Regions from separate parts of the Homo sapiens genome. Here region 2 is linked to region 1. The links come from fine-mapping of genetic effects on gene expression. A gene starts in region 1. The other region holds a variant in brackets. All regions are shown on one strand. Distances are between the middles of the regions.

The links. PIP is the estimated chance that this variant, and not a neighbour inherited with it, causes the effect.
Region 2: its variant is the best candidate, but not a certain one, in a credible set for the expression of TAF12 in whole blood (TOPMed, PIP 0.58).

Annotation. Positions count from the first base shown.
Region 1 is chr1:28,639,914-28,648,247 of GRCh38, forward strand. TAF12 (TATA-box binding protein associated factor 12) reads right to left here and starts at 3,154. Exons shown (of 6, transcript NM_005644.4): 1 at 3,079-3,154. TAF12-DT (TAF12 divergent transcript) reads left to right here and starts at 3,343. Exons shown (of 2, transcript NR_146730.1): 1 at 3,343-3,850; 2 at 8,280-8,334. RefSeq lists a silencer at 4,704-4,998 and an enhancer at 5,206-5,705.
Region 2 is chr1:28,465,267-28,473,600 of GRCh38, forward strand. PHACTR4 (phosphatase and actin regulator 4) reads left to right here. Exons shown (of 14, transcript NM_001048183.3): 5 at 419-583; 6 at 1,116-1,502; 7 at 8,288-8,334. Among named protein-coding and RNA genes, the nearest start is that of SNHG3, 37 kb to the right of the region's middle. The variant C/A (reference allele first, on the strand shown) is at 5,274.

The DNA.
Region 1 (8,334 bases):
TCATTGAACCTCCACCTCCAGGATTCAAGTGATTCTCTCCCACCTCAGCCTCCAGAGTAGCTGGGACTACAGGCATGTGCCACCATGCCCAGCTAATTTTTGTATGTTTAGTAGAGACGGGGTTTTGCCATGTTGGCCAGGCGGGTCTCGAACTCCTGATCTCAGGTGACCCGCCCGCCTTGGCCTCCCAAAGTGCTGGGATTACAGGTGTGAGCCATCATGCCCAGTCCAAATTAGTCTTTCTTGGCCTCCTAAATCTAAAATTAAATGTCTTTCTACATTGCAAGGAAAAGCTCTACAAAGTTCCCGTTTTTCTATCTTGAATAATCTATGCTTCTGTGAAAACAGAATTTAGTTCTCAAATGCCACAATACATAAGTACCCTAATATGTTATAGTCCTTGACATTTAGAGGAGCCTTAAGAAGGAGGAGATGCTTTCATTCAATTATATGTTTTGTATAACGATTACTTCTATTTTGCTGATGGACAAACTGAGAGGAATCCACTTAGAAGAGTAGAAAAAAGTTTTAGAGGCACATGTAACTGGGGTTGGGTCACTGTGTGATTTCAGGCAAAGTAACCTCTCTAAACCTATTTCATTATCTGTACAACGGGACTGACAATATCTAACTTGTGGGGCTGTGATAATTAAATCATAGAATACTCGATAGTGCATAAGCTGTGCCTCGTTAGTCTGAGTAGGTTTCAGAAAAAGATATTAATATTGAAGGAAGTGACTGGTGCAAGTCTCCCCACCATCCTTATCCAAAAGCAGCCATCCCTAGTAAATGTTTGCACTAAAAATACAGGACACACTTATTTATGACTTTCCAAACAGCTTATTAAATAAATAAATAACACTGAGCTTTATTTAAAGGTTCCAGCCAGGTGCAGTGGCTCATGCCTATAAGAACATTTTGGGAGGCCAAGGCGGGAGAATCATTTGAGGCCAAGAATTCAACAGCAGCCTAGGCAACACAGCCAAACACTGTCTCTACAAAAAAACTTAAAAATTAGCTGGGTGTAGTGGCTCATACCTGCAGTCCCAGGAGGCTGAGGCAGGAGGAGTGCTTGAGCCCAAGAATATAGGTTGCAGTGAACTATGATTATGCCACTGCACTCCAATATGGGCAACAGAACAGGACCCTGTCTCAAAAACACAAAAATAAAAATAAAGGTTTCCTTACTATTAAGTGACATTTACTGTATTAATGTCAATACAGTAACAACACTCAAATTATCAGAAACTGTAAAAATTTCCAGTTTTTACTGGAAATAAAAACTGGGCCGGGCGCAGTGGCTCATTTCTATAATCCCAGCACTTCGGGAGGCTGAGGCGGGCGGATCACTTGAGATCAGGAGTTCGAAACACAGCCTGGCCAACATGGCAAAAACCTGTCTCTACTAAAAATACAAAAAGTAGCCGGGCATTGTGGCACACACCTGTAATTCCAGCTACTTGAGAGGCTGAGGCAGGAGAATCGTTTGAACTGGGGAAGCAGAGATTGCAGTGAGCCGAGATCGTGCCACTGCACTCCAGCCTGGGTGACTCTGTCTCAAAAAAACAAAACAAAACAAAACAAAAACAAAAACTGCAAGGGGGGTGAGGTGACTCATGCCTGTAATCCCAGCACTTTGGGAGGCCAAGGTGGGAGGATCACTTGAGCTTAGGAGTTTGAGACCAGCCTGGGCAATATAGTGAGACCCTGTTTCTACAAAAAATTTAAAAATTAGCAGGGCGTGGTGGCACACGCCCGTAGTTCCAGCTACTCAGGAGGTATAGGTGGGAAGACTGCTTGAGCCTAGGAGGTTGGAGGTGCACGGGGCCAAGACTGAGCCGCTGCACTTCAGACTGGGCGACAGAGAGAGAACCTGTCTCAAAAAAAAAAAAAAAAAAAAAATTCCCTCCTGAGTTTGAAGATAAAGCAAAGATTCTAGAAGCATTTAAGGAACATTAACCAAGCATCTCATTTGCTACGCACAGAAGGGTACTGTATTAAAATTATGATCTAACTAACCATTGCCTCACTGTAATCCTAAGCCTCTTTGAACCTTAGCCTTCTTAAATGTAAAATAGGAGTTTTTAAAAGATGATCTTTTGGGACTCTTCCATCACTGACATTCTTTTATTTGAGATGCAGAGATCTGTGCTCATTCAGGGTTGAGTGGAATGGGATTTAAAGCACTTATCAAGTACATAACTGAGTTCCAACTGTTTTCAACTTCACATCTGATTCCCAAGAATGAAGCAGAAAATGAAGATGTTTGCATATGGGCTTCCTAGATTGAGTATCTGACACAAGAAAAGCTTGCCAAGAGCCAAGTAGGCAGTGCGAAGGAGAAGTTGTCTTCCCCTGAATACGTCCTTTATCTCTCTGGGTTCAGGGAATACTGTGAAAAAATGGATCACTAAATCTTTTCCAAACCCTTTCCCTTTACTTTGTAGGCTGATCTCATATCCATGGTCCCTTAGATCCAAGGCTTTTAGGAGCTTGGGTACTCACAGCCCTGTTCCGAGACTCAGGAACTCGGAGTCTCAAAGCCCGGATCCCGTCCCCAAAGAAGCCCCAGTCTTCACTGCCCGCTTCTGTTCCCTTCCAAACTCAAGTTTTCTCTGTCTGCTTCTGCCCCTCAGGAACCTAAGTCTTCGCTGCCCCGTTTCTGAATCCTTAGGAGCCCGGGTCTTCACTGTCCCGCTTCTGCCTCTTAGGAGCCCAAGTCCTCACCGCTCCACTTTTACCTCTCCGGAGCCTGTGTCTTCACGCCCCGTTCCTTTCTGACCCTTTCCTCGTAGGAGTGCGGGTCCTCATAATCCTGCTCCTCTCAGACCACTTTCCCTCAGATGCCGGAGAACTCGCATCCGTCCCCGTTCCCTAAGTCCCGTCTTAGAGCCCGGGTCCCCACAGCCGCGTCTTCTCCGAGCCTGATCCTCTCAGTCAGTCCCTTCCCAAGAGCCTGAATCCTCACAGCCCCGTCTCGTCCACAACCTGGTCCTTCGAACACTGACCCACTGTAGGTCTGGGTCCTGACTCCCTCCTCCCGCTCTTGTTCCTCAACTGCCAGGGCCCAAGACTCACAGGCAGCAGCGTCTATCTCCCCATGATATGCAGAGACTGCCCCAGTGAAGCGTTCGTCTCAGCAGCCGGTCCGACTGCGCGGCCCTCCCCGACTACTTCCGGCACCGCTCCCCGCCTCCAACCCGGAAACGCGCGGCTCTTCCGGCCGGCGGGCGCGCGCCTCGCTTGCGCAGGCGCAGACTGCCCTCCGACACGTGGTGGCGATATTGAGCTGTGTGTAGGTACACCCTGCAGCTTGCGCTTTTAACTGCTTGTGGTTGAGTGGCAGCATGAGCGAGCTCTGCGTATTCCAACCCGGCGTTAAGAATCCTTCACTAGCTTTTCTTCCCGACGCTGCTTATTTATCTATCGGTAGCATGACGGGTAATTGACGCCCTCGGATGGCTTTGAGGTCGCCATTTTTGGTTGGTGCCTTTGTCTTGGTGTCAGGACTGGGATATCATCTGGGACACATTACCCCACAGGTATCCTGTTGGACCTCAACGAGGAAGTTGGCAACAGAGGAACCAGGAGATGAGAGAGATCGGTTGGTTGTGCCTGTGAACTGGCAATTCAGTAGTAACAATTGAGTGCTTACTGTTTGCCGGGAATTGTGCTAATCCGCTTACCTCCGTTACGCCATTTAATCATTTAGAGGAGACCTGTGAGAGATTAAGCAAAGTTCTAGCTAATAAGTGCAGAGCCTCAGCTTGAACTCAGAACTCACTACTAAGCCAAAGCCTGTCCTGTAGCATTCTCTAATGCTTTCAGTTTTTCGGCTGTCAGATGCTTGGTGAGAACTGCTGTTATGTGGCTCACGCCTGTAATCCCAGCACTTTGGGAGGCCGAGGAGGGTGGATCACGAGGTCAAGAGTTCAAGACCAGTCTGGCCAAGATGGTGAAACCCCGTCTCTACTAAAAATACAAAAAATTAGCCGGGCGTGGTGGCATGCGCCTGTAATCGCAGCTACTCCGGAGGCTGACGCAGAGAACTGCTTAAACCTGGAGGGGCGGAGGTTGCAGTGAGCCGAGATCGCGCCACTGCACTCCAGCCTGGGCGACAGAGCGAGACTCTGTCTCAAAAAAAAAAAAAAGAGAACAGCTGTTATTTTTTACTGTATGCTGGAATGTTAGGCATGCAAGTAAGACCCAATTCCAGCATCTGTAAGGTTCACAGTAAGATGGAGAAGAACCCACAAACACACCAAAAATTGTATAAAGAGCTGTGACAGGCCAGAGTGAGCCACATAGAAATTAGGAAGAGGTGCCCAGATTGGTGCGGCATCCTGCCCTGTCTTTATATCTTCCTAATCCTCATCCTACCACGTTCCCAGTCCACCCTCTACACTGCCACCCAATCCAAATTCTCAGATTCAAGTCCTCATGAACATTGGGCTCTAAGCTGTATTCCTAGCCTTATTTCCTTGCCACTGCTCTCCATTCTTTTTAGGGTCCGGCATACCACTTTTTGTTGTTGAATGCCTATACATCTTTTTTAAGACCCAGGTTGAATGTATATACGTTCATTTGACAAGTGTTTGAGTCTCATTGTGTGACAAGCCTTTTGCTATGTGCTGAGTACATAACTGGTGGCTAAGACGGATGATCTCTGTCCTTAGAAAGTTTGCAACCTAGAGTGGGAAACAGACCATTAGCAACTGCACAAAAGGGTGATAGAAGAGAATACTGGAATAAGCCAGACTTATCTAGCTGGCTGATGGCCTGAGCCATGGTCTTCAGTAAGGAAAACACTTACTCAAGGACCAAGATGGCCAAGGTGGCTGGAGCTTTGGTAACCGGGAAAGACAATGAGTTTGGAGAGGTAGGCAGGGGTTTGTTATAGTCTGGACCTTTTAGCCTAGACTATGATGGGGACTTGAGATTATATTCAGTATGCAATGGGAAGGTGTTGGAAGAACGGTGAAATTATGGCGATTGTTAAATGATACAGGGTCTCACTCTGTCACCAGGGCTAGAGTGCAGTGGCACAATCATAGTTCACTACAGCCTCAAACTCCTGTGTTCAAGCGATCCTCCTCCACCTCAGCTTCCCAAGTAGATGAATTTTCTTTTTTTTTTTTTTGAGACGGAGTCTCGCTGTTTCACCCAGGCCGGACTGCAGTGGAGCTATCTCGGCTCACTGCAAGTTCCGCCTCCCAGGTTCATGCCATTCTCCTGCCTCAGCCTCCCAAGTAGCTGGGACTACAGGCGCCCGCCACCGCGCCCGGCTAATTTTTTGTATTTTTAGTAGAGATGGGGTTTCACCATGTTAGCCAGGATGGTCTCGATCTCCTGACCTCGTGATCCGCCTGCCTTGGCCTCCCAAAATGCTGGGATTACAGGCAGGAGCCACTGCGCCCGGCCTCTTCTTTTTTTTTTTTTTCTTTAAGAGATAAGGACTGGACACCCTGGCTCACGCCTGTAATCCCAGCACTTTGGGAGGCTGAGGCAGGAGGATCACGAGGTCAGGAGATAGAGATCATCCTGGCCAAAATAGTGAAACCCTATCTCTACTAAAAATACAAAAATTAGCTGGGCGTGGTGGTGCACGCCTGTGACCCCAGCTACTCAGGAGGCTGCGGAAGGAGAATCGCTGGAACCCGGGAGGTGGAGGTTGCAGTGAGCGGAGATTGAGCCAGTGCACTCCAGCCTGCGTGACGGGAGCAAGACTCCATCTCAAACAAAACTACAACAACAACAAAAAAACAGATAAGGCCAGGCCAGGCACTGTGGCTCACGCCTGTAATCCCAGCATTTTGGGAGGCCGAGGCAGGTGGATCACTTGAGGTTAGGAGTTTGAGACCAGCCTGGCCAACAGGGTGAAACCTACTAAAAATATTTTAAAAATTAGCCGGGTGTAGTGGCGCGTGCCTGTAGTCCCAAGCTACTCAGGAGGCTGAGGCATGAGAATCGCTTAAACCTGGGTGGTAGAGGTTGAAGCGAGCCGAGATCGTGCCACTGCACTCCAACCTGGGCAACAGAGTGAGACTGTCTGGGAAAAAAAAAAAAAAGAGAGATAAGGTCAGATGTGGTGGCTTTACACCTGTAATCCCAACACTTTGGGAGGCGCAGCAGGAGGACTGCTTGAGCCCAGGAGTTTGACCGGCCTGGGCAAGATAGGGAGACACTGTCTCTAAAAAAAAAAAAAAAAAATTAGCCTCAGCATGGTGGTGTGTACCTGTAGTCCCAGCCACTCAGGAGACTGACAGGCAGGAGGATCTGCTTGAGCCTAGGAGTTCCAGGCTGCAGTGAGCTATGATTGCACCACTGCATTCCAGCCTGGACAACAGAGCAACACACTGTCTCAGGAAAAAAGACAGAGAGAGAGATAACACTGGTGGATGATAGGAAGAGCAATTGACAGCACCATCTCTGGGCTTCTCACAAGTTTATACAACACATCTGCTTCCTATTACAATGTAAGAGCTGTTTATTTATCTCCTTTCTCTTGTGACTTCTACTTTGTAAAGAGCAGGGAACTCCATGTATTATTAAAATATATTAAAGAAAGTAAAATACCTAACAGTCTATATTTTGTGTTGAAAACATTTTACTTTATTATTTATTTATTTTTTTTTGAGACGGAGTTCGCTCTTGTTGCCCAAGCTGGAGTGCAATGGCACAGTCTCGGCTCGCTGCAACCTCTGCCTCCCAGGTTCAAGTGATTCTCCTGCCTCAGCTCCCTAGTAGCTAGGATTACAGGCACCTGCCACCACACTCGGCCAATTTTTTTTTTTTTTTTTTTTGAGACAGAGTCTCACTCTGTCGCCCAGGCTGGAGTGCAGTGGTGCAATCTCGGCTCACCGCAAGCTCCACCTCCTGGGTTCACGCCATTCTCCTGCCTCAGCCTCCCGAGTAGCTGGGACTACAGGCACCCGCCACCACACCCGGCTAATTTTTTGTATTTTTAGTAGAGACGGGGTTTCACCGTGTTAGCCAGGATGGTCTCGATCTTCTGACCTAGTGATCTGCCCACCTCGGCCTCTCAAAGTGCTGGGATTACAGGCGTGAGCCACCGCACCCGGCCAATTTTTTGTATTTTTAATAGAGACAGGGTTTCACCATGTTGGCCAGGCTGGTCTCAAACTCCTGATCTTAGGTGATCCACCCACCTCAGCTTCCCAAAGTGCTGGGATTACAGGCATGAGCCACCATGCCTGGCCTGAAAACATTTATTTTTATATATATACGATGTGTACATACATAGAAAGCAGTCTGGCAAGATAAACACTAAACTGTTCACAGTTTGGAGGAAGCATTTTCACATTTTATAACATCTCTGTGCTGTTTCAATTTCTTTACAATTGTCACATATTGTTTTTTTTTTATTTTCTTGAGACAAGATCTTCATCTGTCACCTAGGCTGGAGTGCAGTGGCATGATTATGGCTCACTGTAGCCTTGACTTCCCTGGCTCAAGCAATCCTTCTGCCTCAGCCTTTGGGGTAGCTGGGACCACAGGCCCATGCCACGATGCCCAGTTAATATTTTATTTTGGGGTAGGGACGAGGTCTCTATATGTTGCCCATTGTGGTCTCAAACTCCTGGGCTCTCAAAGTGTTGGGATTACAGGCATGACCCACAGCACCCGTCCATCATTATCCATAAAAAAAATGGGAACAGGCCGGGCACGGTGGCTCACGCCTATAATCCCAGCACTCTGGGAGGCTGAGGCGGGCGGATCACAAAGTCAGGAGATCGAGACCATCCTGGCTAACATGGTGAAACCCCCGTCTCTACTAAAAATACAAAAAATTAGCCGGGCATGGTGGCAGGGGCCTGTAGTCCTAGCTACTTGGGAGGCTGAGGCAGGAGAATGGCGTGAACCCAGGAGGTGGAGCTTGCGGTGAGCCGATATCGCGCCACTGCACTGCAGCCTGGGCGACAGAGCGAGACTCCGTCTCAAAAAAAAAAAAATTGTGTTGATAAAGATCTACTTCAGTCATCTGAGGTACAGTATTTCATTTTTCACATTAATGCTATGCTGTACCTTATTCTACAACTCTTTTCACTCGATTTAAAAAAAAAAAATTCTAATACTCCTTCGAAGTGCAGCATATAGCATGCCACAATATGAACACACCATGACAATCAGCTTATGCGTGACCTTGTGACCTTGTGCTTCCACTGCACGCCTGCCTGGGCTGCTCCAAGGTGGTGGCTAGGGGTGGCACAAGTTACACATTTTCAATTTGGATAGGTTGTGATTCTTGTCTTCCCCAGTCAGATACCTACAGCCGCTGAGAGCCGGTATTCCAACGCCATGAGACGCCTTCTG
Region 2 (8,334 bases), 170 kb before region 1:
CTGGCTAACACGGTGAAACCCCGTCTCCACTAAAAAATACAAAAAATTAGTCGGGCGTGGTGGCAGGCGTCTAGTCCCAGATACTCAGGAGGCTGAGGCAGGAGAATGGCGTGAACCCGGGAGGCAGAGGCTGCAGCGAGCCAAGATCATGCCACTGCACTCCAGCCTGGTCTGTGAGACCCTGTCTCAAATCACCAACTCTGGCCAGGCGCAGTGATTCATGCCATTTATCCTAGCACTTCGGGAGACCAAGGCGGGCTGATTGCTTGAGCCCAGGAGTTCAAGACCAGCCTGGGCAACATAGTGAGACCCTGTCTCAATTTAAAAAAGAGAGAGAAAGAAAAAAAGAAATTACTAACTCTTCTTTCTATCTGTTCATGCCAACTTCATCACTTTGTACTCTTCTTTCACCTTGCAGGTGGTGAGGATCCAGGAAAGCCAAGCGATGCCATGTTAAAGAATGGCCATACCACCCCCATAGGGAATGCCAGATCATCTAGTCCAGTCCAAGTAGAGGAAGAGCCAGTAAGATTAGCAAGTCTTAGGAAAGCTATTCCAGAAGAGGACCTAAAGAAACGACTAGGTAAGAAACTCTGGATTTTTGAGTTTAAGAGCCACGGGCCAGTTATTCTCCTTACATAAGGGGTTTGCAAGAGAACAGGGAAAAGTGAAATCTAGAGAGAATTACATTCTCCTTTAACAATACCTTAACTAGCAACTTCAAGGGGAATTTCCTCCCCCACCCCGCTTTTATTCACTAAATACCTAAATTTGTGATCCTCAAGAAGGGAAGAGGATGTTAAGTATCAGATACCTATAGGATTTTTTCCAGCTACACATTCCACTTCTTTCACCCAAGGAATTTTGTTGTGGCTCTCCTCCAGTAGCCTGGCCCTTGTGTGAAGAATCACTACCACAATGAGCATCTCTTAGTGAGCCTTTCTTACTGACATTTCTTAAGTATGGGGAGGTTGGGAGGCATTGAGAATGGTAACCTATAAGCTAATCTATAAATTAATTGGTGAAATTGGCCACAAATTCATAGATGTGTTAGCTTTTTCAGTTTCTCTTGTTACTCTCTCTTCCCTTTTTATACCATACATGTTATTACACAGGCTCAACTGGAAGCCAGCCTAATTCTGAAGCAGAGTCTGTTCCTGAGAATGTACCCAAACCACCTTTACTTCCTCCCAAAAGACCCTTGTCCTCTTCTCATGAAGCAAGTGAAGGGCAAGCAAAGGATGCCACTTCCTCTGGCGGCACGGCAAGGTTCATCATCTCCACCTCCATCACCACAGCACCCGCTGCCACCACTGCTGCCACAAGCCTTGCAAAGACTGTTAATCTCTCTGTCACCCCTTCCCCAGCACCCAGGACTCTGCCTGCTGCTCCTGCCAGCACTAACACTACTGCTACCCCAAGCCTCACTCATATGGTCCCTGCCAAGCAGCCCCCTATCCCTCCCCCTAAACCAGCTCACAGAAATAGCAACCCTGTCATTGGTAAGTAAGTCTTTAGGCTTCCAGTGTTTTGGGTTTGGTTTGATGTTGGATGGTTATTTTATTTGATAACTGGTACAACATTGATTTGGTCTGTGAGAATTTTCCATATCTTGTCCCTTTGAATGACCTCAATATGGAGAAAAGTCTTAGGTTAAGAAAAAATAGGCCAGGTGCGGTGGCTCACGCCTGTAATCCCAGCACTTTGGGAGGCCGAGGTGGGTGGATCACAAGGTCAGGAGATTGAGACCATCCTGGCAACATGGTGAAACCCCATCTCTACTAAAAATACAAAAAATTAGCCAGGCGTGGTGGCACGTGCCTGTAGTCCCAGCTACTTGGGAGGCTGAGGCAAGAGAATTGCTTGAACCCAGGAGGCGGAGGTTGCAGTGAGCCAAGATTGTGCCAATGCACCCCAGCCTAGGCGACAGAGAGAGACTCCGTCTCAAAAAAACAAAAACAAACAAACAAAAAAAGTCATGAAACTGAGGCAGATGGCCATAAATGTAAACATCACTAAGATTAGATTTAAGTTTTGGGGGTTTTAACCTATTTTTTAATCTAATATTTAATCTGTTTTTCTAAAACAATGATTCCAAAACACTATACATATTTGTGTGTGTGTGTGTGTGTGTGTGTGTGTGTGTGTGTGTAATTGGACTGGATATGTGAAAACCATAACAGATTCCACCTGCATGGAATTATCTGTGGCACTTGCTGAAAAATTAGAATAATGCCTCAGCTCACAAGGGGCAAGGCAAACTTTTCAAATGAAAATTTTTAAATCTACTTAAAACTACCTATGCCTTCCATAAGCATTAATGAGTCTAGTAGATAAAAGGATGATTCTGTAGATGCCAGTGGAATTTGGGATTCAGTGTCTGGCATAGTTATCTTCACAGGGAACTGCAGAAGCTATTACTTAAATTGTTCTGATAAAATCATGTTTTATCTTGGGAGAATTAAGAATGCTATTCTTATGTTAAAATAAGTGATGGTAGAGAAAGCAGGGAATATAATCAGTAAAATTTGTATGGGTTTAGTAAATTTTTTGCATTTACCCAAAGTTCTATTTAAGTCTACTTTCTTTATATAAATGCACAATTTCTTAGAAGAATTTTCAAGAAAGGGAGAGGAAAGCTAATGAGTGCTTCAAAGCTAATAAAAATATAGTTTTTTCAGGAAAAATGATACTAGGCTTAGTATTGCTTAAAGTTCTTGTTCACGATTGAACGAATGAATAAAAACTATACTCATTAAATATTTAATATCACCATGTTGGGTGGAGTGATTCAAACCTTGAAAAACAGGCTTAGAATATTTTATGAGTATGACAGTTTGGAGTAGCTTGATGAAAACAGGATGAAGTTGTTATTACCACCACTTTGGATGGATAGTGTCATGTTGACTTATCTGTGAGGAACTTGGGGAGCTTTCACATACTTATTTTCAAAACTACCTTGTGCTGCAGGAAACCAATTTTATCTTTTCCATAGGTAGGGCAATTAGAACATGAAGACATTGTGACTCATTCAAGGTTGTAGGCCAGGCGCAGTGGCTCATGCCTGTAATCCCAGCACTTTGGGAGGCAGAGGCGGGTGGATCACCTGAGGTCAGGAGTTCAAGACCAGCCTGGCCAACATGGTGAAACGCCATCTCTACTAAAAATACAAAAAATTAGCCGGGCATGGTGGTAGGCACCTGTAATCCCAGCTACTCGGGAGGCTGAAGCAGGAGAATTGCTTGCACGTGGGAAGCAGACGTTGCAGTGAGCTGAGATTGTGCCACTGCATTGCAGCCTGAGCAACAAGAGCAAAACTCCATCTCAAAAAAAAAGAAGAAGGTTGTAGTTAGTGAAAGATAGAAACTGAACATAGGCTTTTCAACTCTCAGGTCCAGACCTCTGTTCCTTACAGTAGTGTTTGCAAACTGGTGTTCTCCTCAGGATCACCTAGAAAGCTTATGATAACAGACTGCTGGACACTACCCGTAGAGTTTCTGATTTTAGTAAGCCTGGGATGGGCTTGAGAATTTGCCTTTCTAATAGGTTCCCAGATGACACTGATGCTGCTCTCCAGGGAGCACACATTAAGAGCCTCTGCTCTACACCAGTGGCATACCACCCTTTTCAAGTTAAGGCAACATATAAAATGATAATTTGTGTATGATACCCTGGACTAAACTGCAGAGCTCATTCTTAGCTTGAGGTAAATAGCCCAAAACAATAGACCTTGTAACTGAGGAATCAGTATTAGTCCATGAGGGGTCCTCAACAAAAGAAGAAAAATAGAACAGTTCACAGAGCATTTCTTAGAGCTAAATAGATTTAATTTAAAGGACTCTCTTTTATTCTAAAATTACAACCTTCCTAATCCTTTGGTGTTAAAATGCCATTTCTTTCACAAAAGGATTATGATCATAAATGGTTTACTTAATATCAAGCCTTATTTGGAAATCTTAGAAAATGACAACCTCAAAAAAACACTAGAAAAAAAACCAACAATCTGAGGTTGATCAAGATTTTTGTTATTGTTTTGGTCACTGAAATCCAAAAGTTTGGAAATCATTGCTTCAGAAGTACTACTGTCTTCTCATCCATATAACATGGAGTATTACGACTAAGGAAAAACCACCAGCAATAGCTGAACGGGTGAAAGGGAATTATTACCCATCCCAGAAACACTCTGAAATTTTTCCACAGAACTACAGCCAGATGCTGTTGTCAGGGTATATATACCAGAATTTACTTCCTTAACATATATGCCTTCCTCAAATTACCAAATAGAATTTATTTTATTAATTCAAAAGTAAAAATATTCATTTATGGTCTCATCAGGAATGAGTTTTGTTGTAGATGGAATAGCTAACAGCTATTTTTAGAGAATCAGCAAAAATCCAATCTTTCCAAAAATATCTCTTTCACTGCTCCTAAAATTCACATTTTTAGAATCTTTTTGTGTGTGTATGCAGTGTTTTTCTAGAAAGCCTTTTTTAAAATTTATTTATGGGGCCAGGCATGGTGGCTCATGCCTGTAATCCCAGCACTTCGGGAGGCCGAGGTGGGCAGATCGCTTGAGGCCCAGAGTTTGAGACCAGCCTGGGCAACATGGTGAAACCCCATCTCTACTAAAAATACAAAAAATGATCTGGGTATGATGGTGCATGCCTATAATCCCAGCTACTCAGGAGGCTGAGGCAGGAGAGAATCACTTGAACCCGGGAAGTGGCGGTTGCAGTGAGCCAAAATTGCACCACTGTACTCCAACCTAGGCAACAGAGCGAGACTCTGTCTCAAAAAAAAAAAAATTATTTATGATGAGAGACATTAAAACATTACAAAATTAGGCCAGGCACAGTGGCTCAATGCCTATAATCCCAGCATTTGGGGAGGCCGAGGTGGGAAGATCACTTGAGGCCAGGAGTTCAAGACCAGCCTGAGCAACGTAGCAAGACCCCATCTCTATAAAATATTTAAAAATTAGCTGGGCATGGTGACATGTGCCTGTAATTCTAGCTACTTGGGAGATTGAGGTAAGAGGATTGGGTAAGCACAGGAGTTCAAGGCTGCAGTGAGTTATGATTGCACCACTGCACTCTAGCCTGGGTAACAGAGCAACATCCTGTCTCTAAAAAAAAAGAAAAGGCTAGGTACAGTGGCTCACACCTGTAGTACCAACACTTTGGGAGGCTGAGGCAGGTAGATTACCTGAGCCCAGGAGTTTGAGACCAGCCTAGGCAACATGGAGAAACCCATCTCTACAAAAAATACCCCCC[C/A]CAAAAATTAGCCGGGCATGGTGGCACATGCCTATGGTCCCAGCTACTTGGGAGGCTGAGGTGGGAGGATCACCTGAGCCCAGGGAGGTCAAAATTGCAGTGAGCCGTGACTGCGCCACTGCACTCCAGTGACACAGTGTGAGACCCTGTCTAAAATAAATTAATTTAATTTAAAAATAAAAATAAATTTAAAAAGAAAAGAGGCTGGGTGTGGTGGCTCACATCCATAATCCCAGCACTTTGGGAGGCTGAGATAGGTGTATCACTGGAGCCCAGGACCTCAAGACCAGCCTGGGCAGCATAGTGAGACCTTGTCTCTACTAAAAATTAAAAAAATTAGTCAGGCATGGGGGCATGGGCCTGTAGTCCTAGCTACTTGGGAGGCTGTAGCAAGAGGATCACTTGAACCCAGGAGATCGAGGCTGCAGTGAGCTATTGTTCATGCCACTGCACTCCAGTCTGGGCAACAGAGGGAGACCTTGTCTCAAAAGAAAAAAAAAAAAAGAATTATAAAATTAGCTAGCCTTGGCCGGGCAAAGCGGACATGCCTGTAATCCCAGCACTTTGGGAGGCCGAGGCGGGTGGATCACCTGAGGTCGGGAGTTCAAGACCAGCCTGACCAACATGGAGAAACCCCATCTCTACTAAAAATACAAAAAATTAGCCGGGCGTGGTGGCACATGCCTGTAATCCCAGCTACTCAGGAGGCTGAGGTAGGAGAATCACTTGAACCCAGGAGGTGGAGGTTGCAGTTAGCCGAGATGGCGCCATTGCACTCCAGCCTGGGCAACGAGTGAAACTCCATCTCAAAAAAGAAAAAAATAATTAGCTAGCCTTTTACTTTGAACATCTCCAATTTTGGAGATTTAGGACAAATACAGTTTTATTTAAGGGAAGTTTTTGAGAGTGTTTGAGAATACTGAGTGGGATGAAACTAAAGGGTTTGAGTAGAAGGTTAGAGGTTGGTGATCAAAAGAACTACTTTTTTTTTTTTTTTCCTGTCAGCAGGGAAAAAATAACTACCCTTTAATTACTTTACCAGTTTTACTCCTGTGTGATCTGATGATCCACTTCTTACAGGTCATCTGGAGCCCTCCAAAGGGACTTTGCTGAAACAACACCAACACCTTTGCTGAGTCATTGTGGGCTTTGGTGAAACTATAGGAATATATACTGTCATGATACAGGGTGAAGGCTTCTCATCTAATAAACATATATTGAGGGTCCACTAGATGCCAGGTACTGTGCACAGCCCTGTGGATGATATGTTGATGGAGACAAGGTTGCCCTGCCATCAAGGAGCCCATGATATAGTGGAGAGTGAACATGGGAAGCTGAGGTGCAAAGGGAACATAAGAGGTGTGCATACCAATAAAAATTAGAGACAGTAGGCCGGGCGCGGTGGCTCACGACTGTAATCCCAGCACTTTGGGAGGCCGAGGCGGGCGGATCACGAGGTCAGGAGATTGAGACCATCCTGGCTAACATGATGAAACCCCGTCTTTACTAAAAATACACAAAAAATTAGCCGGGAGTGGTGGTGGGCGCCTGTAGTCCCAGCTACTTGGGAGGCTGAGGCAGGCGAATGGTGTGAACCCGGGAGGCAGAGCTTGCAGTGAGCCGAGATGGCACCACTGCACTCCAGCCTGGGCGACAAGACTCCGTCTCAAAAAAAAAAAAAAATTAGAGACAGTAGGATGCAGTCAAATAGTCAGAGACTTGGATACCAGCTGAGTCCATGCCAGTTTGTAGTATGATCTTGGGCAAAGTCACCTAGCTTCTGTGGCCTTGCCTTTTCCTTCTGAAAAATGGTAAAGATGCTATATTTTTTCCCCTGTCACCTCAGGTGGTATAAGGAGAATATGACTTCAAGGACAAAAAACACTTTGATTTCTTCAAAGGACTTTGCAATTGCTATAAAAATTCAAGATGTCAGTATTGACAGTTTTATAACACAGAGCTAAGATATCTAGATACCATTATCAGGATATGGTAACAATACCCACTAATACTTATTTTATGCTATCTGAATGTTTAAATTTTTTAATGGAGTACTGTTATACAAAATAACTTTTTTTTTTTTGAGTCAGAGTCTTGTGCTGTCCAGCCTGGAGTGCAGTGGCATGACCTTGACTCACTGCAGCCTCCGCCTCCCAGGTTCAAGAGATTCTCGTGCCTCAGCCTCTCCTGAGTAGCTGGGATTATAGGTGCCCACCACCACACCTAGCTAATTTTTGTAATTTTTTTTTTTTTTTTTTAGTAGAGACGGGGTTTCACCATGTTGGCCAGGCTGGTCTCGAACTCCTGACCTAAGTAATCTGCCCACCTCGGCCTCCCAAAGTATTGGGATTACAGGTGTGAGCCACCGTGCCAGCCACAAGATAACTTTTTATCAGATTTTTTTTGTCTCTATTCATATTAACTACACCAAGATCAAGTTACAAAAAGTTGTCAGCCGGGTGCCATGGCTCACGCCTGTAATCCCAACACTTTGAGAGGCCAAGGCAGGTGGATCATTTGAGGTCAGGAGTTCGAGACCAGCCTGGCCAACATGGTGAAAGCCCGCCTCTACTAAAAATACAAAAATTAGCCGGGCCGTAGTGGCGTGCGCCTGTAATCTCAGCTACTTGGTAGACTGAGGCAGGAGTATCGCTTGAGCCCGGGAGGCAGAGGTTGCGGTAAGCCAAGATCGCGCCACTGCACTCCAGTCTGGGCGAGAGAGTGAGACCCTGTCTCAAAAAAAAAAAAAAAAAAAAAATTGTCATATCTGTTGCCATAGCAATGAAGTAAGCTACTCATCAGTCTTCCTACACCTCTGTACATTTATTAAGCCTTCTATTTGAATAAATATAAACTTCATTTCAGGATAAAATATATAGGGAATGGCAAAACTATGAAATTATTTAACTTGCTTAAAAGATTAAAACTGAACTCAACTTTAATTCTAGGCCCTGGGCCGGCCCTTCAAAGCATTGGAAAGTCGTGAAATTGATGTGTTGCTCTCTCTTTTCCAGCTGAACTGTCCCAAGCAATAAACAGTGGTACATTGTTATCAAAACCG